Regions from separate parts of the Homo sapiens genome. Here regions 1, 2, 4 and 5 are each linked to region 3. The links come from fine-mapping of genetic effects on plasma protein levels. Region 3 holds a variant in brackets. A gene starts in each other region. All regions are shown on their forward strands.

Region 1 (4,823 bases), not on the chromosome of region 3:
GACATTTAAAATACAAGTATAAACAGCAGAAGCTTCAAATTTCTTTCTCTTTATTCCTTCAGTGTTGGGAATTGCTACTTCTACATAATCAGTTTAGTTAAAATTGTAAAACGAAATTGAGGTAAGGAAGTGAGAGAGTTTGGACTCAGGGAACAGAGAATTTAAACTTCCAAACACTTAGAGAAAAGACATTTTCCAGCAAAAATTTTAGTGAAAGGTCAGCTTGGGTTTCAGAAGAAGCTGAAATTTATCCCCCAGCACCAAAATTCTAAGAGGGCTGACTTAGTTTTCCATACTGCCCTGATCCACTGTTTGCAATATATCTTAGGCTTCAAATTGGAACCCATAAAAATACATCTGTCAATAAATTTTAAAAGAAAAAAAGAAACCTCAAGGCAATGGGGTTATTTTCTTCCCGAACACCATTGGCTTATACAGACTTTTTCTTTCGTTTCTGTAGCTCTCGTTCAAACCTGAAAAATAACAAAGTTGTAAAGCATTGATTGAGGTACATATAGGATTGTCAGTCCTTAGCCTAAGCTTCTAATGCAGAAAACAGCGAAAGGATCTCTCAAGGCCTCTACAGTTTGACGCCAGAGAGTAAGACTCTTGATATGAAGTGGATGATGAGTTGGAACAGCTGTCCCTTCATCCAAAGATGTTTGCCATGTAAACCAATACCCTGCAGTGGCTGGTTTTGTTAAGCTAGCGAAACTGCCACTCCTCAGGCAAATGAAGCCCAGTAGAACAGGATAAATATAGGAACGTAGAGCAGCGTATCTTCTTTTTCACACTAATATATTTAGAGAAAAATATCAAAGGCAAAAAAATGTTAGACAAGAGAGCCAATTCAGTCAAGCAATAAATTGGTTAGCAAAGGACTTGACTCTAATCACACACGGTACATAGCAGATATTAGTAGGGCCTTAGTAGGGCAATGGGGTTAAACTCTCCTAGCCATATTTCTACCACTAATTTCCTCAGTTATGGCCCAAACCTTTGAAAAATACTTCGAGGGAAGTTGTGGAGCATCTCCTGAAAGAGTATTACAGAAAAAGTCATAAACTGGCCTTACCTTCAATCTACCAAATAAATTTCCTCAGCAGCAAAGCCTCTCCCAACTCTCCCCTCCTGAGAACCCCAGGCAAAAGCCAGCGTGATGCCTGGGCTCCGAATTATCATGTGGCAAGAGCAACCAATCAGATCTTGAGTTGCTCAAATTTCAGAAGCTAAATTTACCAAGTGATCTTCTGAAAACCACCTGTTCATCAATTCCACTAAAGGATAAAGGGTAACAAATTGCTTGCTTAGAACAATTCAAATGGAATCAAATTTTACCTAACTTCCAGCCTGTGCAGTTCAATTTTAGGTTGAATTTCCCATTTACTGAGGCCCCATTCAATGTCATATTCATGCAAAAGAATTTAGTAGAAAATAAGCATGACTTTGAGAGGCTTTAACCCTTCCGTGACTGCTTTCTTCATGTCATTTGTCCAGTCATGGTGGTAAATGTACTCACTCTGGTAAGGTTCACCAGGTGAGCTACAGGTAAGTTACTGGTGCTAGTGTGAAAGAAACTGAGGAATAAGACCCAGTAAACATCAAGTTGACAAAAGCAATTTTTAAAAATGTGATGAGTGAAGTTAAAGGTGAAAATATTTGACAATGGCACTAAATAAGATATCCACAGGGTGTAATTAGAAAGATTAGACCCCATCATTTTTCTGTTACTAAACCAAGAGGGTATACCAAAATCCTATTTAGCACCTTCTCCCTCCTTAGATAAGGCAAGCTGCTAGGAATACAGAACCTCTCTCATATGTAACCGAGTTAGTGATTTTTCTATTAACTCAGATGACTCCTGGCTCCCAGAAGCAACGTGTGAATGCGGACACAAACAGGCTCAATTTCTGAACAGCAAGAGCAGATAACATGGAAATCAGTAACTTATCAGGAGAAAATAATGCCCTATTTGGCAAATCCGAACGTAAGACATTTCCTTCATAAAAATTATCTAACCATTTTCTTAAAACTTGCCTGATGTCTTTCTTGCACTTTCTTTGCTCCTGAAGTATTTTTTCTAATTTAAAATCTAATTCTATCTGTCTGTCTGTCTGTCCTTACACACAGCGACAGAAATCACAGGCTCTTATGTGACAGAGAACTGCTCTTTCTCTGGGTTGCTCCTGTATTCAGGCAAAACCCTGTGAGTCACCTATATCTTGATATGGATTTGAGATTAAACATATTGTAATATTTTTTCTTTTTTAAGTTAAACATTAGAAAGTAATCTCGCTGGGCGTGGTGGCTCACGCCTGTAATCCCAACACTTTGGGAGGCCGAGGCGGGCAGATTGTCTGAGGCCAGGAGTTTGAGAAAGTAATCTCATATTTCAAATACATGTACCTTTTCCCCCTCCATGATTCACATGGTAGTAAATAAAATCTAACAGAATTTTATCATCTTAACTGATTATACCTGTTCATCTTGTATGTTCTCACAGGTCTTATGACCAAAGGATATTTATGTAATATGAGATCACTCACTTGGTAGCTGCAAACTAGAATTGTGACTTACTAGTCATTACATGCTTTAAAATGTGTTGTTGAATTAAAAAATAATACAGGCCCATACTTTAAAAACATAGAGTACAAAATTATATAAAGTAAAAAATGAGCATTGACCTTCTTAGTCATTTTTAAGTTTCAGATATTTTCAATATAGATATTGACATAAATCGATATACTTAATATGCAATAGACATTTTTATGAAACATCACATAAACATATCCTACTCTAATTTCCACAAATAATTCTATTGATTGGATAGAGTATAATAGTTTAATCATTATTAATGGACATCTAGGTTGTTTCGAGGTTTTTGCTATTACAAAATAAAGCAAAACAATGCGAAACAAAACACACAGTAAGCATCCCTGTACATTACCTTTGTATACTTATATGAAATGTATCTGTAAGGTAAATTTCTAGAAATAGAAATACTGAGGCAGAAGATATATGCACATTTTGAAAATTGATAGATATTGTCAAGTTGCCAGTCAAAATCCTTACACTATTTTATGTTTCACTAACAGAGAATGAGGGTTCCTATGTATACACATCTCAATATCCTTAGGGATTATTAGACTGAAAAATCATTACTATCTGAGCTGAATGTGTCCCCCCAAAATTTATATGTTGAAGTCCTACCCCCCGATGTGTGGAAAGTGATTGGGTCATAAGGGTGGAGCCCTCACGAATGGGATTAGTACACTTATGAAAGAGGCCCCAGAGAGCTGCCTGGCACTCTCTCTGCCATGTGAAGTTACAGGGGGATGATGGCCAGCCACAACCTGAAAGAAAGTCCTCACTAGAACCCAACCATGCCAGCACCCTGATCTTAGACATCCAGCCTCTAGAACTATGAGAAGTAAATTTCTGTTTATAAGCCATCCAGCTTATATTATTTCTGTTATAGCAGACCAAATGGACTAAGACACTCTTTATACATTACTTTTGAAACCACTATGATAGTAAATAGAAGTGCTACAGATGAGCAGAACCTCAAACTCCATTCATAATGAAGTGTGCATCTAAAAAGTTAGGGTGGGGGGTGGGGCAAGAGTGAGTTCACATGAAATTACCCTGGCTTAGATCTCTTGGGATAAATTCCTCCTAAAAGAAAGCCCCAAAGCCCCTGCTAAACTGGCCTGCTGCAGGTTGCCCTAATAATTTGCAAAGCCATCAGAAGTAAGAGACTCACAGGAGAGCTGGTTATATTCCTACCATGGTTACACAGGGGTGAGTGAACCAGCAAGCAGCTTATATTTACCTCCTAGTCACACTAGAGAAAAACACTGCCACCTCCTTACTAAATTCTGCAGATTCTAATCTGGAATGATGCCCTCTAGAGATGAAAGAACAGCTTTATTTTCCTGGCCTATCTATGACCTCTTCTGTGGAACGACAGTACATTGGCACCCTGATTTATTGGTAGGTTCTTATTATATGCCTTGCACATGGTAAGTGTTCAGTAAATGTTAGCTATTATTATTTTTACTATTATCATTTTTTACATTATATTGGAAGCTTCACGCTTTATTCTGTATTTAACTGAAATACCAAATATCTTGAAGCTTCTAAAATCAGACAATAGTTAGTCTAAGAATTTATGAGTACGCAGGCATCTGACTAGAAGCTTGTACAACTGGCTACAAACCAAAGCAGGGCAGTTAGGTGCCAATATCGGAACTTCAGATAAGGCTTCCCTAAATATGAAAATATAGAAGTGTCATGCCTGGAGACCAAAAAAGACATGATAAGGGGAGATGGGATTGTAACAGTTTTTGTTGTCATTACTTTGATTTCAGTATTTTGATCAACCTCTATATGAACATAGCTTAAGAATCAAGCTTAAGTTTCATAAGACTTGCTACTAAATCAACATTTCCTGTTTCCTCTATTCCTTTTTCCCCTCCCTGGAGACATCACTTGGACTCATTTAGCTGAATCTTTTGTTATATTCCTTTACACATTTAACAAAATGTCTACATTGCTCCTTCCTGATTTTTCATTCATAGGCATCATTTATTAAGCTCCTATCCGGGAAGATGAGGCTTTAATTCTCTTTCATCTAAACCACAAGCCTCACCTCCTGCACCTCAATAAAGTTCTACACATATAATTCAGAACTCAATGTTTACATTTTTATGATTAGCAAAAGGCTATTCACAGCTGAACCCTATAAATTATGATTATTTTTCTTTTCCTCTACAAGGGCTTGTTTTTCTGGAAGTTGGTATTTTTCTCCATTTCTTTTATTT
Region 2 (4,917 bases), not on the chromosome of region 3:
GGATTTTTGTTACAATCCAATGGAAAAATCGATATGAAAGTGCTAAAGGAATATGACAGACTATTGTTACTATCACTAGTATAAGCAAATACTCAAAGCAAGTAAGAAATGAGGGAACTAGGCGGTAGCCAGGAAGGAGAGAACCAGAAACAGAAACAGCTACCCCATAAAAACCATGCCGCCCATGTATTGATCACTCTCTGTGGACCAGGTTCCTTTTGTATATGTTTTCTCATTTAGTCCTCAGAACTCCGTTAGTCAGGTGTCTGATTTTCACGGGAAGACCAGGCTCCAAGAGCTTAAATACCTCTCCCTAGGTACTAGGGTACCACGCAAAAAACTAGTAAGTAGTGGGGACTCACACCTACCTCTGTCTGACTGAAAGCTTTGCCCTTTCCTACCATCTAACTGCTTTGGTGCTCGCCCTGTCCTTTAATACTATTTTGGTGTTCACCACAAGAGGTGATGCAGGAAGAACAAGAACACTGAGGCTCTCCCTCTTTGGCAATGGCTGTAGGTGAGGGGCTGTGTTTGTCTTGTGTTGTGGGAAAGGGGGTGAAGGCCTAGCTGTGGTGGGAGGAGGTCACTGGGGAGGTAGAATGTTCCACTGTAAGAGGGTATTGTAAATAGGAAATGAGAGGGAAGGAGTGCAAGCTGGACACCTGGGTTCTCTTGGGAGGGGAGATGAGCAGAAGGGGAGGGGGAAGGGATGAGAGAGCTAGGTCCTGTTTTAGAAGAGGACTTTAGGGACTACAGGATCAGGCCAGGGGCCAGACAGACACCTAGGGGACCAGGAATGTGTGAAGTCCAGATGTTTTAGAGGAGTGTTTTAAAGGGAAATTTAGGGGAGGGGGGAGTAAAGAGAAGGTTAAATGCCAGACAACTAGATACTCTGATCTGCGGGAGGAGACCTCATCCCCTTCCTCCTTCCCTCTTTTCTACTCCATTAGGGCTGTGATAAGAAGTTTGAGGGAACCTGGGGGAGACCAGGCCTGGCAGAGGCTCCAGGCCAGGGTGATGATGCAATGGGGTTTGGGCAAAAGGCCAGGGGGGTGGGGTGGGGGTTGGGTGGGGACCTTGAATAGCCCAGAACAACAGTCGGGGCCTAATCATTTTTCTTTTCTCCCATCCCCAAGTCCTCCAGACAAAGGAGAATTTGCCTTTCTCCCCAGTTGTATTAGCTAGATTAACCCCTTTTCTCCAAAAACTATAGGGACTGAGTAGAGATCAGTTAACTGTCTCATGTGTAAAAACAGGTCGCTTCTGACAGAATTCCCCTCAAACCCTGAGATCCTGGGGTTGGGGTGGGGGTGAGCAGTAGGAAGCTCCCAGCTCAGAGATGTAGAAGAAAAAGGATTACACCAGTCATTGTGGAGGACCAGGAATCTGGCATCTATGGCCTAGCCCAGGAGCAACCACCTACCTCTCTTGCTTCCCAATCTCCCCGCCATCCCACATTTAAACAGACACCCTTGGTTCTAATGTTGCTTCCACTCTAACTCCTGTTTCCCAAGCCTGTCAGTACCCCATTTTCTAGGCACTCGGGGTCCGGGTCTGCTTATCACTGTGCTGAGTTGGGAATAAGGATCCTCCTTTGAGATTTCCAGGGTCCTGAGTCCTTCATTCTGACGTTCTTGGCCCCACGGAGCCCCCGTCTCCCCAGCTTCCGACCCCAGCCCCAGAAGTCCCGGTCTCAGCACAGCTCCAGCCGACCAGCTACAGGAAACCAGCTTTTCTCTTCCTCCCAAGAGCCAGAGGAAGAGGGAAACCGCCCACCCCCCTTCACGCGCGCACACACCCCTCCCGACACATCCCAGCACCCGCCCTTGGCTGAGTTCGCCCCCAGCCCCAGGGCCCCAGTGCCAGGGTCCCCGCACTCGCCCCCAGTTCTCGGATCCCCTCGCCTGAACAGAGATTGGGGGCGGAGGGAGGAGTAGGAGACAGAGGAGAAAGGAGAGGGAGCCGCCGTCCTCTCTCGGGTCTTTCCCCGGTCTGAGTTGAGGGGGGAGGGGAGGATGAGGCTGGCCCCCATTTAACCTTCCGACCCCCTCAGTCTTTGACTTTCCTCCTACTACACGTAGCTCATTCGGCTTCTACCCGTTCTCTCGCCGCACAATGGCCCCTACGGATCCCGAGGTCTCCTGGAGCCCCCAAAAGCCCTTCCCGGCCTCTGCGCCCCCTCTGCGCCCCCACCCGCCCCAGGTCCCAGCAGCCCACAGACTTCAGCCAGAGACCCTCAGCTCTCCATTCACGCGCTCTCCTCTCCCTTGGCCCGGAGACCCCTGCCCAGACTTCTCCAGCTCCGTGTCCTCTCCCCACCGGACACATGTCTCCCCACTGATCTCAAACGCCAGGGCCCCTCCTCACCCGCCACGGTGCCCTCCCTACTCCAGCGCGGGCCCCCAACTCTAGCCAGGGCCCCCAACTGCAGCTCTATTCCTTACAAACTCCACCCTCAAACTTAAGCCCTGGTCCCCTCCAGACCCCAGCCGCGCCCCCAGTCTCCAGGCGGCTCCCCCACCCCCATCCCGTCTCCAGCCCTCCTCACTCACCCGTCTGTTCCCGGCCGGTAAAACTCCACTGAGAATCCGAAGAAGGAGCCCGGGGGCCCCGAGAGTACTGCTGGGGCCTCCGCGTCTAAGTTGAAGCCCCCGACCCTGGGTGGCGGCGGCAGCAGCAGCAACAGCAGCGGCAGCAGCGGGGGTCGGCGCCGGGGGCCCCAGCGCAGCTGCACGGCGTGGAGAGGGGACTCTGGCGTCCGGCTCCCCATAGCGCCCGCTCTTCCCTGTCCTGGGGCCACCGACCCGGAGCCGCTTCCTAAACCTCCCAGAGGCGAATGACTCAACGCGGGGAGGAGTTTGCCAAACTCCCGGCTGAGCCCTCCCCCCGCCTGCCGAGGGGGCTGGCGGGGGGGCATTCCTGGGTCCCTGGAACTCTGAGCCCGCGTCCCCCACCCCTAAGGGGCGTGGGGGGGGGGCGCACCCCTCCAACCCCCTTTCCCCAGCCCCAGCTGGAAGCCGGTTGTCTGGACTGGGTTAGACTGGGCGGGTTTGGGTTCTTCCCCCTCCTCTCTGCTTCCCCCTCCTTCCTCCCCATTCCTTTCCAGATGTACAACGTAAACGCTCGGAAAACGAGTCGGAAAAGGGAGCGGAGAATTTCCTAATGAGGAAAGGAATCACCTCTGGTGGGCGGAGGAAGCCTGTATATGTGTGTGGGGTCTCCCTCAGTGCTTTAGGGAGGAGACTTTGGGGTCTAAAGAGACAGGAGACTCCTCTGGCGTCCGGCCAACTGGGATTCCCCCTTGCCTTCCGGGGCCGCCGGGTGCCTGGGTTCTGGCCAGCTGGATTTGGGACACAACAGTTGAGGTACAGAGACAGCGTTCGCAGTCAGCTTGCTAGAGGACCTACACGGGCTCCTCAAGTTCCGCTGCTTCCTCCTCCAAGCTTGCTAGTATTGAAAACCCAGGAGTTTGGGGTCATTCATCAGGAGGATTCTGCTCCAGTTTGCCCCCTTCTTGGTCCTAGGGTATGTAAACCTCTGCTGAGCCCCTTCCTTGGATCTGACAGTTGACCAAAAGCCTGCGAGTGGCTGGCCCCTCAGTACCTGCTTGATTAAACTGGCCGGGTTCCTACAAACCTGGAGAATTGTGAGAGGTGGTGGTGGTGGTGGAAAGTCTTGCAAAGGGACCCAACCTTCAGCTCCTAATGGCTGTAAACGCTGGGAGCTCTGGCCAGGCACGGTGGCTCACACCTGTAATCCCAGCACTTTGGGATGCCGAGGTGAGCAGATCACCTGAGGCCAGGAGTTCAAGACCAGCCTGGCCAACATGGCAAAACCCATCTCCACTAAAAATACAAAAATTATCCAGATGTGGTGGTCCGCACCTGTAATCCCAGCTACTCGGGAAGCTGAGGCAGGATAATTACTTGAACCCAGGAGGCAGAGACTGCAATGAGCCGCGATTGCACCACTGCACTCTAGCCTGGGTGACAGAGCAAGACTGTATCCAAAAAAAAAAAAAAAAAAAAAATCCAAAAACCAAAAACCAAAAAAACAATGGGAGCGGAAAGCCAGGACCCCATTCTTCCCAGATTCCCCTGTGGAAGTAGAGGAAGGGACTCTAGAAAGGGAAGGCAGTGACCCCCTGCCCACCTCTTCCCCAAGCTCAGGCTCTGTGTGATGAGATCACTTTTCAGGATTCTAGCCTTTATCTTAGTCTGGGGGAGGGGACTACAAGTCCTTTCAGTCTCTTTCCTCCAGGACTCCTCACTTTCCAGAATAATACCCTGTCAATAATATCCTGTCAACCCTGTCCCTTCTGTTCTCCAGTCCCCTGCCCCACTTCGGGCTGAAAGGCTCAGAATAAGAGTGCCCAGAGTCAATGTTTTTTTCCTGCCATGACTCTCCCCCTCACTCTGCTACTCCACTTCCTGTCCCAAATCACCCATCTGCTTTTTTAAAAGCCCCCCTCCAGAGCCAGCTGCAGCCCAAGGGAGAGGCTGGCTGGCCAGACTGTGGGGCAATGCTGGCCCGTATCCCATTCTCACATCTGCAAGTCCTGACCCTTTCTTAGGTGAGGAACCCAGGGAATCTCTGGGTCAGGATCTTTAAGCCCAGCATTGCCAAAAAGGCAACCTTTAGGTGAGAGCTACTCAAGCCATGGGCTGGGAACCCCCTTTGGGAGGAGAAGGGCTGAGGCCTGATTGCTTTTTAGCCCAGCAAAACACGTGTGTGAACCAAACACTCTCCTTTCTCAGTCTAGGCAAACTCTTTAGATTTTCCCAGGATTTGGGAGATTAGGGGTGGGGGTGGGGAGGGGTGCAGGGAAGGAGGTGTGTGACTCAGCTCCTCCCAGGAGCCTTGGTGGGGGACAGGGGACATAGCGTCCTGCCCCAGTCCTCCTCCCCACTCCACCCC
Region 3 (4,917 bases):
GGGTAAAATCAGCCCCTTAAAAGAAACTCACATGAGATAAAAAATCCTTGATCATGACATTTGCCTCCCTTATATTACTACTTATCATCCTGGAAGCGCTGTGAATTCAGAGATTCTGTATCTGTTTACACATACTCTATAGGGTATTGTAGAACACCAGGCCTGGAGAAAGTGCTCAGCACATAGTTTTTGAGTGAAAAGTGATAGGTCATTCTCCCTAGCATGCTTTCAAGGAAATAGCCCTCTAAAATAAATTTGTTATTATTTGGGGAATAAAGCATATTTAAACATAATATCCACCCTAGTATATGAATAATAATTCTACTATATTTAATGTATTAGTTATTTGAGGCTACTAGGACAACCACTTAGGTTTTGCAGATATTCGCATCATGATTGTGAGTCTAGGTGAGTTTGACTTGGTCAAGCTGAGTTTAGTAGGCTCAAATGGATGTAGAGATGGGGAAGCAATAAACCTGCTCAGATTAGAAAGCAGAATTAGTATGATTGTCCATCATATACTCTTTGCTTCCTGATTTCGGCATCAAATATAAGGCAATTAGACAATCTGGTGGAGAAACGAACAGAATGCAGCAAGACATCCAGAAATAATTCATTAGGAAAGATGCCTGGTATTTTGAATACTTTTCTTGTAGTGCACCAAACAAAATGGTAACCTGATAACCTAGAAGAGTCATTGATTACCCCAGGAACTCGACCTGTCTTTTATGAGGAACTGGGTAATGCCTATTTGTGTAAATGAGCAGTACCAAAAGCAACAAATTATGACATCACTTTTTACCCTGTAAATTTAAACCATGACAAATCGTTAATTTACAATAAAAAAAAAACAAAATCAAAGATTCTTTGCAATGGTGTCTATTTATAACATTAACACAAGCTGAAATTTATAAATCCTTCTATTTCATACATTCACAGTTCAGAAACAGCTGCAGAAGATTCTCCCAAGATGAAGCACTGTATGGCAAGATGTAGCCCAGACTGAATTTTTATGGTTGAGTTATAAAGCTCTGACAATTGCAGCCTGTATGGAGGGGGTGATAGACCCTTGACAATGGTAGTTCTGGCAGCAGATTTAATACTGGTTATTTCCTCTGCTTATGACATTAATGCAGCATTGTTAATATCTGATTAGCATTAGTCAAGTAGAAAGACTTTCCTGAATAAAAATTCTTTCCTGGCAAGGCATTCAAAAGCACATCAATACTAATACCACCTGACTTGGCATATTATATATATGGGTAGGATTGCTATTTTATATATATAAAACATGTGTACCTGGATGTATATCATCTATCTTCACATATAATATGCCATATATATTTATATACATATATATACATATATGTGCTTAGGCAGGTATCAAGTTCATGCTTCTCATTTTCAAAAATTTTTCTGATGTGACCAGGGCTAGTCAATACACTGATCAGAAAGAAGAACCTTTTATATAATCAAAAGACAGAAAAATAAGATGAAGTACATGGTATTTAGACATGTTTTGGTAACACAAACCATTCTACTTATAATTAGACCTTGCAGTATACTTCCTACCATCAAACGGCATGCAGGATATTTGATTTCAAGCCAAGGCTAACATGACAATCATGTTATTATCTTTTTTATTTTTTCAAGCAAAGAAAGTTCATGTTCTCTCTTCTGTGTCTTCTTTCAAAATATTTCTTTCAAGATTACAACTTAGAGGAAAATAATTTGAAACAGTTTTGCTCTTAGTAAAGCACAGAGAGTGACTGTCAGCAAGGTAAGTGTCATCCATATTTTAGCCAATATTTACATTCAGATTTCATTAGTTTAAACAGATATATTCCAAATACTATATAAGAAATATAGTCCAATTTGCTTGTGATTCATAACTCACTACTAGTGTGAGTTTTTATGTCTTAAAAATGAGATAGCTTGCAAATGTGAAGATGATTTATTCAACGCAAAGATAATTGTTGTACTCCCCTTCACATATGATCTACGGTTAGGTCTGCCTTATACTGTTTGCTGTCTATTATATACATGTCACTATCTAGACTTACAAACAATTCCATTTGGTTACTCTGGTTAAAGCATTTATTTTCTTCAACAGTCATGAGTAATGCTTATCATTCAGTGTATTATGTGATTAGGCTACTAGAACATTTACTAATCCCCCAAAACACACACACATATACACACATGTGCGTGCATACACACACACACACACATACACATCCTCTGCAGGATATAAATAAAATAGCAATCCTCCCCTACACATGTACCTGGATGTATATCATCTATCTTCACAGTATATGATTAAATAGCTAAAATTACCATACCTATTGGACCTGGAAATCCTC[G/A]TGGACCACTTTCTCCAGTGGGACCTCGATCTCCTTTTTCACCCGGGGGTCCAGGAGGACCTTTAAAAAAATTACAGTTACTGATCATAGTTGTAAAGCATAGGAAAAATGGGTTAGTCATCTGTCAAGGTACTTATATAAGGAAATCCAAAGTCTTCTATTTGTTGTGCAATAATATAGAATGTATAATACTGAACTTCATGAATGGAGGAGTATTCTGCTATTCAGGAATATAATGCCCTATACTAATGAGGATGACATTGCCTCAAAGTAAACAACCTAACAGTATATTAAATGTGAGTGTGCCTAACACTTTTCTATGTTCTGAGAACCTGGGGGCAGAGAAAAGACAGCAGGCTGGCACAAAGTCACATTAGTGTTGTACGCATCCTAGGCAGTTAGACATAGAGTTAGATATAATACAGAATTAGCTACTATACGGAAAATCTATAAGTAAGAACTTAAAAGACATTTGTGATACCCTCAAGGGAAAGGAAAATTCACACATGGTAGACAACCAGAAAGCACTTTGTTGGAACTGACCATAAACTCAGATATTTGTCAGTGAACTGTAGATCGGCGTGAATGGTGATGGTTGAAGTCTTCATTGAGAAAGTAGGATATGAGGGGTACTTTCAAGAATGAAGGGAAGGGGAAGGAAGACAATTCCTAGGGATTGAGAAAGGCATGAGGAAAGGCAGGAAGGTGAAAATGAGTAGAGGAATTCTTTTTTCAAGTAAAATATTAAGTAGAATTTCTAGGTTGCTATAAATACTGTAAACAAAATGGAGACATTGCAAGGAAAACTTTGGTCTCATCATTTTTTTTCAGGTGGCTCTCCTGAGAGCTGTAACTAAACAACCCTGATTTAGCCATTTGTATTTTCTGTGTCCAGCAAAACAGATACCTGCTCATCATGCCTTTAAAATGATTATACCTAGCATGTCTTTAGAACTCAAAGGTAATCCTACCTAAACACCATGTTCCATATGGAGTACAGAGGACAAATAATCTCTTCTTTATCTAAAGAAGAGCACTTAGTTTCCTTTTCAACACCAGAAGAAAGAAACAGAAAGAAACATTATTCCATAGATTCACCACAGAATAAGGAAATAGTGATATTTTAAAGGAAGCATTTTCAATTGCTAGTTTGGACACATACATAGTCCAAGGAAAACAAATATATACAGCATCCCTGGTTAGAATGCACTTGTTTACAAATTTTAATCAGGTGGGAGACATAATACCCGAAGAAATCTAAGAGGGGGAACCACATAAATAAATAAAGATTATCTCATGAATAAGTATATTTTGTACATTTTGTTGTTGCTTATTTTGACATCCTTGACTCTACTTCTGTCTATTCCTCTGGTATGTCCCATTTTCAAGGTACAATTTGGGTTTTAGAGGCCCAAGATATCATTATTACTCTTCTCAATAGAATGTCCCTTTCTCCTCATATGCAACATTGGACACACATTTAATTGTATTTTTATTATAAAAGCAACTCTACTTATAGGAAACATAAAAGCCTAGAAAAAGCGTGAGGAAGAATATAATTCGTAGTTGTGTTATTTTAACTAAAGATCTTTACCATTTCTTTCCTAAGTGTGTACGTGTATTTTTTTTTTCCACATAATCGTCATGCAAACAACATGTTACAGGGCTTTTAGAAATTAACTGGTGTATTATATTCTAAGGTATAGCTTAATTGCTGCGAGACATATATTTAAATGCTGCACAAGAAATGTAAGATTTCTGTATCAAAGGGAATCTCTATGTGCCCCCTATTCCCTGCAGAAGAATGTAGTACTTCCCAAGAAAATGGAGTTATGGTAACTTCCATAACCATGAACGCAGCTGCATCCATTCAACACTACATAGCAATGAATCCCAGGGGAGGGGGGCAAGCAGGACAGACACTCAATTTATGCCTGAATTTTGTTGAGCTAATTGAAGGGAAGCACAGGGATAGTAATCAAGGATGGTATTTTGAAAAAAGTGCGCAAGCAAAGATTTCAGTTTAGTAACTCAGGATCCAAAGCAAGACGCAGACATTCCAGGAAAAACTAGAACATGAAACAAGAAGAAACAAGGGACACAGAGAATAGATCTAGACTCTTAGCCTCTGAGATGGACTTCTCACCATTTCTTTGGTAAGTAAGAGATGGAAGGAACTCTCCTAATTACTAACTATCCTTTCAATTATATTACATGTAATTATGGGAACTGTATACTTAATTTTGGAGTATTAGTTCAATCACAGCGAATAGATCAGTATTATTTTACAAAATTTGGAGTTAAAGATCCCTCTCTGTATTTTTATATAAAAATACTGATACCTGGTATTCGAATCCTACAATAAGAAAAACAGGTAAAGATTTTTGTTAGAGTTCTAACTAGGCATGTTGAATGTACCTTTTTATTGTCATTCTATTCTTCATGTAACATTAATCTCACATTATGTTTCATTTTTGTACATTGTTATAGATCTTTTACTGTTTCTAACAAAATGTTGGAAGGATCTCAATAAATGTTTTAAGTGTCTTTTAGA
Region 4 (4,917 bases), not on the chromosome of region 3:
CGACTAAAATATTTCTATATGACAAATAGAAATATTTGTCTCTTAACTGGAAAATGTGTTTCATTAATATTTATGGTAATTATTGGTATATTTTGATTTAATTTTAGCAAATAATATTGTACTTTTAACTTATCCTTCTCTGTGCTTTTCTTTCCTCCTTCATTAATTTTTTTTTCATAGATCAAGTCTTTCTTTAAAAATTCCCCCTGCACCTTCTATTCGGATGCCTATGTCCATTTGGTAGTTGTCCTTAAACTTATAACAAATATTTTTGAGCAAAGCAAAATTAATTAATTTCTTTTTCGTCCTCCTGAACAATGAAATGATTTTAGAATCCTATTACTGAACATAAAAGCAGCACATTTTAGATTATTTCCTTATATCTGTCTTCCAGTTCATTAATATTCTTTTCAGCTTTGCCTAATTTGCCACTTAATCCATGCCTTGAGCTTTTAAAATTTTCAATTAACTTTTTTTTTTAATTCTAGAAGTTTTATTTGGTTCTTTAAAAAAAATCACCTAGCCTTTTTCTTTTTGACAATGTCTTATTCTTTTCTCATATTTCCAATTCCTTCTTTTAGAGCTTCAGTAGTTTTAAACATATTTATTTTCTAGTTTTTTGGCTGATATTTCAACTAAATGCAGTTCTTGGGGAGAGGTGTCTAATCCTTTTTGGTTTCTGCTGATTCTCATTTATAGTGGTTTGCTTCCTCATATGTTCAAATATCATTGTGAATTCTTTTTTGTTTTCACAGTGGCAGATAGTATATATTTGAATTCTAAACATATCTGAGGGCAGGCCCAATTTCACAAACTCAAAGGGACCTTGTAGAGTTCAAAGAGAGACATGATTGCTTCCTACCTCTTTGTGCTAGGGCAGAGTGGGATTGTACCTACTGAAATACAGTAGGTAACCCTGTGAGGGTCCTGGCTTTCATGAGGATCTCCCTTCTAACTCTCCACCTTTGGCCTAAGCTTTGCTTCCACATGGTCATCAACATTTGGTGGTTATAGAACTAATAACCCCTATCTCACTTCACTCCTATGCCAGAGGGGCCCTAGCATCAGCTCATGGGATTGTTGTTTTTGCTTTCCTCTCTATCTTTGGCTCCGGGATTTTCCCCTTACTTTAATGGGAGCTCATCTGTACCTTTTAAGTTTTTATTAATATCATGTGAACACAGACCTGTATATATTGTTAGAAGCAGAAATCTCTAAGTTTACTTTTAAAACATGATCCTTGCCTCGAAACCTTGTAGAATAATATAATGTCCACATAATACCAAGTTATGAAAAGAAACATACCTAAATAACTAAATAAGTATATTCCTTTTTTCCCCCAGCTTTTTTTCCCCATTCTAGGTTTACCCAGTTGTACTGTGTTGTTTGTCATAGGCCGGGTGAGGTGGCTCACGTCTGTAATCCTAGCAATTTGGGAGGCGAAGGCGGGTGGATCGCCTGAGGTCAGGAGTTCGAGACCAGCCTGGCTAACATGGTGAAACCCTGTCTCTACTAAAAATACAAAAATTAACTGGGTGTGGTGGCGGGTGCCTGTAATTCCAGCTACTTGGGAAGCTGAGGTAGGAGAATCGCTTGAACCCAGGATGCGGAGGTTGCAGTGAGCCGAGATCACACCATTGCACTCCAGCCTGGGCAACAAGAGCGAAATTCAGTCTCAAAAAAAAAAATTATCTATAAAAGTATAGGTGCAACTCCTCAAGTATTAAAGACAAGATAGCTCGGATTGGACTTGACTTTCAGAGCCATAACTATTCTTAATATGTTGGTTTATCTTGGAATCAGACCATTTTCAGTTTCAACCTGTAAAACAGTGTACAAAGGAAACATGGAAAGTTTTCTATATATAAAGGGTTGTGAAATAATAACAGCTCACAGAAAATGCTGAAATGATGATTTGCTTCAGTACCCTCTGAAATTTCTCCCCTACCACCCCTCCTTCATCCCCATTGCTATCAATTCAAATTACAACAGCTAATTCTCAGGAGAACAGTAGAAGCCCAGTTTCTCTCCTCTTTCCCCTCTGACCCTCCTCCAATTAATCTGACTGCAGCGTAAACCTTTGCGGTTTAATATTGTGCAACTTCCACATTTCCCTCGCTCTCCCACCCAGCCCCCTCCCCCACCAAATTCAGGGGAACTCCCGTTACCGCAGTGCCACCAGCATTACTCATTCATCCCCATTCAGGCTTTCCTCAGCATTTATTAAGGACTCTCTGCTCCAGCCTCTCACTCTCACTCTCCTCCGCTCAAACTCAGCTCACTTGAGAGTCTCCTCCCGCCAGCTGTGGAAAGAACTTTGCGTCTCTCCAGCAATGCATCTCCTTGCGATTCTGTTTTGTGCTCTCTGGTCTGCAGTGTTGGCCGAGAACTCGGATGATTATGATCTCATGTATGTGAATTTGGACAACGAAATAGACAATGGACTCCATCCCACTGAGGACCGTAAGTTCACTTTAACTGTTTCTCTGCTAACCCTGACTACATATCCACCTCTTGGTCTAAATAACACACATATACTTTGTGGCCAGTGAGACAAGTTAAAAATTTATAGCTTGTTATGCAAAAGTGAGAAGCACTTGAAGAAAGATGGAGGTTTCAAAGTTATTTCTGTAACGTACATAATGGGTTGAATCATATCAAATCGTCAATATTTGACTGTTTTGAGCTACATAACCGGCGATTTCATAGGGTACAACTTAATCTATACCTGAATGAATGATTTCTGTCGTTTCTGAGACATTTACATGCTGTTTTTCGGAGGTGTCCTTAAAGGGAAGGGGAATGCCAGGAACGGGCTGCAACTTGGCACCACCGAGGGAGGTCAGCTTTTACAAAGCACATCCAAGGCAGGCCTGGGCGGGCTGCTAACGTGTGTGTATCCCGTACTCTAGCCACGCCGTGCGCCTGCGGTCAGGAGCACTCGGAATGGGACAAGCTCTTCATCATGCTGGAGAACTCGCAGATGAGAGAGCGCATGCTGCTGCAAGCCACGGACGACGTCCTGCGGGGCGAGCTGCAGAGGCTGCGGGAGGAGCTGGGCCGGCTCGCGGAAAGCCTGGCGAGGCCGTGCGCGCCGGGGGCTCCCGCAGAGGCCAGGCTGACCAGTGCTCTGGACGAGCTGCTGCAGGCGACCCGCGACGCGGGCCGCAGGCTGGCGCGTATGGAGGGCGCGGAGGCGCAGCGCCCAGAGGAGGCGGGGCGCGCCCTGGCCGCGGTGCTAGAGGAGCTGCGGCAGACGCGAGCCGACCTGCACGCGGTGCAGGGCTGGGCTGCCCGGAGCTGGCTGCCGGCAGGTAAGGAGGCAAGCGGGGCCGGGACCTCCCACTGCGGCTTTGTTCCGGGAGCGCGCGTAACGGCAAGCCAAGCCAGGCAACCTTCTAGGGGAAGCTTTCATGGGAAGCGCGCGCGCGCGCGCGCACACACACACACACACACACACACACACACACACCCCTATTTCTGCATGCGCGGTCACAGAGCTCAGGCACACCATACAAGGCGGGAAAATTGGCTTTAAAAAAGTATTCCTCAGTCCTAAGGAGCCCTAAAGAGAGTTGTGGAGGTAACCATCACAGTCTTGAAATAGACGTCTAGGGCCCCTTACACCCGATCCGACTAAGCGCTGCAGGAGTCCACTGGCCCGTTATAACCGTGATCCCTCTTGCCGCCCAGCTTCCCTCCGTTAGGGATTTCCACGTCTTCTAATTTTATCCTGCCTCTGTCTTTAGAGGAGCTCTGGTTTCCCGCACTATTTCAGGGCCCAGGCTAACGTTTAGGGATGTTTTCCAGCCCCTCAGCCGGCCCCTCCTCTCCGCCCACCCATTCTCAGCAAGAAACTTGAGGCTAAAGCTAATCTCCCGAAGGGTCAGCGGAATTCTTCAGGGGTCCCCCAGCCCCCGGGGTTTGTGGAATTAGCGCGACAGGGGAGGTCGGAGGGTGTGCGGTTTGGGATTCAGCGTGGAACAGTCAGGTGTAGGAGCCAATCCGTGTAGGGGATCCCAGCTCCACCCCAGGGATTCAGAGAATTGGGGCCAAGCAGGAGAGAGACTGTTCAAACCACAGGCAACTTCTCAAAGTCCCATGTGACACTCCATGAATCTCCAAACAGACATGGGTTCCCAAAATAATACATTCTAAAGATGGTTAAAAGAAAGAAATAGAAGATTTGGAGCCAATCAATACTCCTTTGTATGCCAAAACTTCTAAGAAATGGTGGTGTGACAATCATTTTGGATTGTATTAGAAAATCAGTGTCCTAGGTAAGAAAATATAACTTGCACTTTTCCTGAGAATCCTTCCCTGTATTTCCAAGAAAACAACTTTTGCTGGATGGGGAGGGGGAAGAAGCATGTTTCATTTAAAGTTAAAGAATTTTATGTAATGAGAGCATGTTTCATTTAAAGTTACAGAAACCATATCATATTTCCTAAATATTTGAGGGGTGCTTGTCAGTAAATACTAAATAGGGCTTCAGAGGAGAAAAAGCATAAAATCAAATGTACACTAGATTCTCAATGTGACAGGAGAGAAATTAGAATTCTGCAGCCATTTTAATGGATGAAATGTCTTGTGTTTCGCAAACCACGTAAAGTCATTGTACATATAATGCACCTGAAAAACCGAAGAATTACTCTATTTTTTATCTTCATCTTTGCATATTAGTTAGAGCAGAAGAGGGATGCATTTCTGAATTCTAAGATGTTAATCCTTATTACATCCAATAATACTTTTACCCATATGCTTTGATTTATCTTCTCTTGGTCTCCAGCCAGCTTGGCTCCTAACCATTCTGTTGTTAGCCTCCTAAGAACCTGGTTTTAATTTTGTTTGGTCTTTGATAATCAGAAAAACCTATTAGTTAAAAGCCATTTCATAAGAGAGTTTCTGACATTTTAA
Region 5 (4,000 bases), not on the chromosome of region 3:
AGCCTGGTGACAGAGCAAGACTCTGTCTCAAAAACAAAACAAAACAAAAACAAACAAACAATTCGAAGATCCCCACCTCCCACAAGGCCTTGACAGTTGTTAATCCTATGATTTCCATTTTCCCCTGATCAGTGCTTCTCTGACAGAGTTGCTATAATTTATGAGAAAAATATCATTGGTCCTAAAGGAATGAGAACTTTGAAGTGGCTAATGGTTTTGTGTTAACTGCCGCTGACAAATCATTTTACGATGTAAGTCCCCAAAGTGTTTTCTGGCTCATAAACTAACAGTTTAAGATTTGAGACTGCTTTCTAATAAATTAAAATTTTATAAGCAATTTTTTTTGTCGGAGGACACACAAAATCTTTCATTTTTCTCATCAAAAACTTTGGGAGAGTAAAGCAAAAAGAAGACTCTAGGAACTAATTTGGGAAAGATTCGTTTCTTTGTTTTAAAGGTAAAAGCATGTGAAAAGCAAATATAAGCAGTTTTTAAACTTAAGAGGAAATGACAGGTAATTCTATTAGAAAAATGGTGTATGTATTTTTACTTACTAATGCAAAGTTTAACAATTACCACTTCATGTATTAAAAGATACTAACTATGGGGCTTGTTGTCACTTACCTTCAGGTTTACTCTCGCAGTTAAAACCTCGGCTTCCTCCATAACAAGTACAAACCAACGCATTGCCTAGGTAGGTCCGCTCCCACTGTTGATTTATCTGATAGTGTTTTCCATTGTCATAACAACCGGCTGCAAATAATTGAAGGAAAACGTTACATTTGCATTTCTCCTTTTCCCAAAATTATGGAATTTTCTTCATGTGAATATTGACGTACATATTTTTTTCCTTTTAACTTTGCTAAAAGTTATATACAATGATGTCATTTCCATCTGGCCAGGGGTCTACATAAAAAAGTTGGAAACATTTTGGAAGGCAGACAATTGAAGTCACATTTTTAAAACATGCAAGGAACTTAAATATTCTTTTGGAGTAATAGTCAAAAAGGACAACTTTAAGCAGCTTTCTCAAAGCAAAAGGAGGGTGTGTCTTTGAAAAACGGAAAGAATTCCAACCTCTGTTCTTGGTGAAGTATCCTGAGCGGCCCTAAAGAGGTCTGAACCAATTACATCTCTTCCAAGTTAGTTAGAAACAAGACAGCTATTTCAATACCCCCTTTCCACCCCCATGTTGAAAATATTTGACCAATTATTTAACAGAAGGAAATAAGTAGCAGTAAGGACCACACTAATCCCAGACGGAAAATTTATAGACATGCATCATTTTTCTCTTTAAAGGCAAGTTTTGGTTAATTCCTAGAAGGACAATCTGAACGTGCAGAATTTATTAGAACACGGGAAAGTCGCAGAGTCCTCGTCCTCCAATGCACGGTCTTATCATCCCAGGCCCTCAGAACCAGCGTGCTCAAAACTCGGTCCTTTTGTGTGCACAGCTGGTTTCTCTCAGTAAAGCGCGCACACACTCGCACACACGCGCGCGCACAAAACTTCAGCCCCAACTTTGGTCGGCTTTAGGGTCCCATCCCTGAGGCAGCCTGTTTCAGCCCGCGGTCAGTACTCACGCTTGCTTTGACTGACAGCCACCGGGGACTGGGGCTGAACCATTTGCTGAGCCTGCCTCTTGCTCTTCGAGGCTCCCGTGGAGGGCACCGCTGTCCCCAGGCACTGGACGGCCAGCAGCAGCAGCCCGGGCCCCGGACCCCTAAGCATGTTGAGACGGTGGGGGAGAGACGCCCGCACCGGGAGGCAAGTTGCCACCAAGTTTGCTTCCCTTCGCAACCTGCGGGAAAAATCCCTTCTAATGCCTCCCGGGGGTTGTCGCCTCCAAGAAGGTGGGGGCCAGAGGGTGGGGAAGGGGACGGGTGGAGGGACAGAAGGGATGCAGAGGACCAGAGAAGTTGTGGCTGCAGGTCCCCTCTTCCCGCTCGCGCCTGGGGTTCCCTCTCCTCCCCCTGTGCAGCACAGCCGGCGCGGGCGTCCGAGCGCCGGGAGCCGGGGCTTATATGGGACGGTCCCCTCCCGCCCCTCTGGAGGCCCGGGGCGCGGGGGAGGAGAGACCCGCCGGGCTGTCCCCGCCCCGCCCCACCCCACCCGCCCGCCCGCCCGCCGGCCGCCGCAGCCGACCGCGCGCCGATTGGCCCGGGCTCCGGGTGACGTCACGGGGGACTGTGGGTTCGCAGCGAACAAAAGAGATGCTGATGGCCCGCCAGGACTGGGGCAAGACAACTTTTTTTCGGTTTCCTTTGCGGTCATCAAACTTTTTAGGGGATGGGGGAAGGGATGGGAAGCGGCTGGGAGGAAAGGGAGTGGCTGGACTTGTGTGAAGCGAAGGGGTTGCAAGACGCTCCCCCTTCCCTTTTCTTTTTTATTGGGGGTGGTGGTAGTGTTTGAGGACATTGCGTCACCTCTCTTCGGGGTGGAGGGGGGGAATCTCTGCTTATAGGAGTGTATTTTGTGAGGAAGAAAACCCATAAAATATCCACGACCTTGCAGCTGTTAAGAATCCAGACTTTTCAGTCCCAGGGCGGGGCTGCCTTTCCCCCCATCCCGCTCCCTTTCTTTGGACTAAAGGGTACTGACTCGGGACTCCCTTATTTTGTCTTCACAGCTCCCTGTTCGGACTTCTTCCCTTCTCAGCGCTGTGCCTGTCTGGCTCTGAGAAAGGGCCAGCGGGCGAACGGGGAGCAAAGGGGAACAGAGACCTTTAATGAGCTTCTACTAAGTACCGGGAGTTCCGCGGGGCGCTTTGCAGATCCCGGGGAAGTTCAGAGAATGAAGTTTTCTTTTGCAAGGACAAAGTAACAGTTTACTTTTTTACACATGCAGGAAAGCCTTCCTTTCCTGGGGATGGGACGCCCGTTTCCACTGAAAGTGAAATCACTGTGAACAACCTGAAAATTGGAAAGTTGGACCAGCTGTGGGGAGAGAAAGGTCTTCGTGTCCTTTCCCACGTTCACCGTGCCAGTTACACACAAAGCAGAGATTTTTTTGCTTGAATCATTAAAAGCCGGGTGGGTGGGGGGCACCCTATGTACTGTCTTGCCCTCCTTCGGCCCCTTTCTCACATTTATTTGCCATTTTCTTTTTGCTGACAAGTTCCATTACAGAATGCCCCCTCCATCCCCCGCCGCCAGATTTTTTATATTTCAATTGTTATTTACTCCAAGAGTGTGGAAAGTTCTCCTTTAAGATTCCCCCGCCTTGAACTCTAAACTCAGAGTGGAAAGGGAATCTGAAAAGTCTCTCATTTAGCAACACATCACATCAGTCCTTTTTGTCAGATAAACACAGGCACAATTGCTTTTAAAGATCTTCAGAAGGAGGAGTCCACCACTTCCACAGTAGATCCAGAGAGACCCGAACTGAATGCTTTGCCTTCTCCTTGTGTTAGGAGTTCAGAGGTTCCATTTGCTTTAAAACACAAGAAGCTACTAATAAAATATATTTATTTCGGCAAGGTACCTATTTTCTCCAAAAGTTTCACCTTCAGTAATTGCCACAGGAGTAATTAGAACTCTGTGTTCTATAAAATGCCTGACACATTAAAGACACAAAATTAGCATTTGTTTTTATTCATGCAAGGATTTAAAACCAAACCAAAACAAAGCAAAACACCCAGCAAATATCAGTTTCCTACAAATAGTGTAAAAAAACCTCTTGAGGAATCTTTGTGACCCACACTCCAAATTGAAAGAGTGCCATGGATTTCCCCAAATTTAGAATCCTGTCTGGGTTAGAGGATTTTTTTGGAATTTCTCATCACTTGACAAAACAGTTTTCTCTTTTCAAATATAAAAGAGCTCCTTGTAAAATGCTTGGTAAATTTCTGGGAAGCCGAGTGTTTCTTCCAGAGGGAAGGATACCTGGAAATCCGGATGTAAGCAAGATAAACCTGTAGCTAAAGCTTTCTTAAAATTCATTGATTCTGGGGGAAGGAAATAAGTGATTAGAAAAGTATTTGGTCAACCAAAACCATGAT

Direction of the effects. Positions count from the first base shown, and alleles are read on the strand shown. Strength reflects both the effect of a copy and how common the allele is.
With allele G in place of A in region 3, the plasma level of the protein whose gene starts at base 1,154 in region 1 is lower (weak association).
For the plasma level of the protein whose gene starts at base 2,838 in region 2, G is the low allele of the variant in region 3 and A is the other (weak association).
With allele G in place of A in region 3, the plasma level of the protein whose gene starts at base 2,250 in region 4 is lower (weak association).
As copies of A replace G in region 3, the plasma level of the protein whose gene starts at base 1,997 in region 5 goes up (weak association).

What was found. PIP is the chance, under the fine-mapping model, that this variant and not a neighbour inherited with it causes the effect. Protein levels are from antibody-based Olink assays in UK Biobank. Linkage for the fine-mapping came from a reference panel and not from the study's own genotypes, which makes the PIPs less certain.
Region 1: it holds the start of NEB, and the variant in region 3 is fine-mapped to the plasma level of the NEB protein (UK Biobank, PIP above 0.99).
Region 2: it holds the start of ITGA5, and the variant in region 3 is fine-mapped to the plasma level of the ITGA5 protein (UK Biobank, PIP above 0.99).
Region 4: PTX3 starts here. The variant in region 3 is fine-mapped to the plasma level of the PTX3 protein (UK Biobank, PIP above 0.99).
Region 5: it holds the start of FN1, and the variant in region 3 is fine-mapped to the plasma level of the FN1 protein (UK Biobank, PIP above 0.99).

The regions. Positions count from the first base shown.
Region 1 is chr2:151,733,323-151,738,145 of GRCh38, forward strand. It overlaps NEB (nebulin), which reads right to left and starts at 1,154. Exons shown (of 182, transcript NM_001164508.2): 1 at 1,076-1,154; 2 at 390-473.
Region 2 is chr12:54,416,429-54,421,345 of GRCh38, forward strand. It overlaps ITGA5 (integrin subunit alpha 5), which reads right to left and starts at 2,838. Exons shown (of 30, transcript NM_002205.5): 1 at 2,553-2,838. The coding sequence starts at 2,770. All of the region lies in intron 2 of GPR84-AS1 (GPR84, ZNF385A, ITGA5 and GTSF1 antisense RNA 1), which reads left to right.
Region 3 is chr8:16,152,722-16,157,638 of GRCh38, forward strand. MSR1 (macrophage scavenger receptor 1) reads right to left here. Exons shown (of 10, transcript NM_138715.3): 6 at 2,343-2,423. Among named protein-coding and RNA genes, the nearest start is that of MSR1, 37 kb to the right of the region's middle. The variant G/A (reference allele first, on the strand shown) is at 2,364.
Region 4 is chr3:157,434,601-157,439,517 of GRCh38, forward strand. It overlaps PTX3 (pentraxin 3), which reads left to right and starts at 2,250. Exons shown (of 3, transcript NM_002852.4): 1 at 2,250-2,463; 2 at 2,913-3,314. The coding sequence starts at 2,334. All of the region lies in intron 4 of VEPH1 (ventricular zone expressed PH domain containing 1), which reads right to left.
Region 5 is chr2:215,434,072-215,438,071 of GRCh38, forward strand. It overlaps FN1 (fibronectin 1), which reads right to left and starts at 1,997. Exons shown (of 46, transcript NM_212482.4): 1 at 1,584-1,997; 2 at 625-753. The coding sequence starts at 1,731. FN1-DT (FN1 divergent transcript) reads left to right here and starts at 1,620. Exons shown (of 2, transcript NR_187198.1): 1 at 1,620-2,238; 2 at 2,848-4,000. RefSeq lists an enhancer at 1-508 and silencers at 2,021-2,080, 2,091-2,180.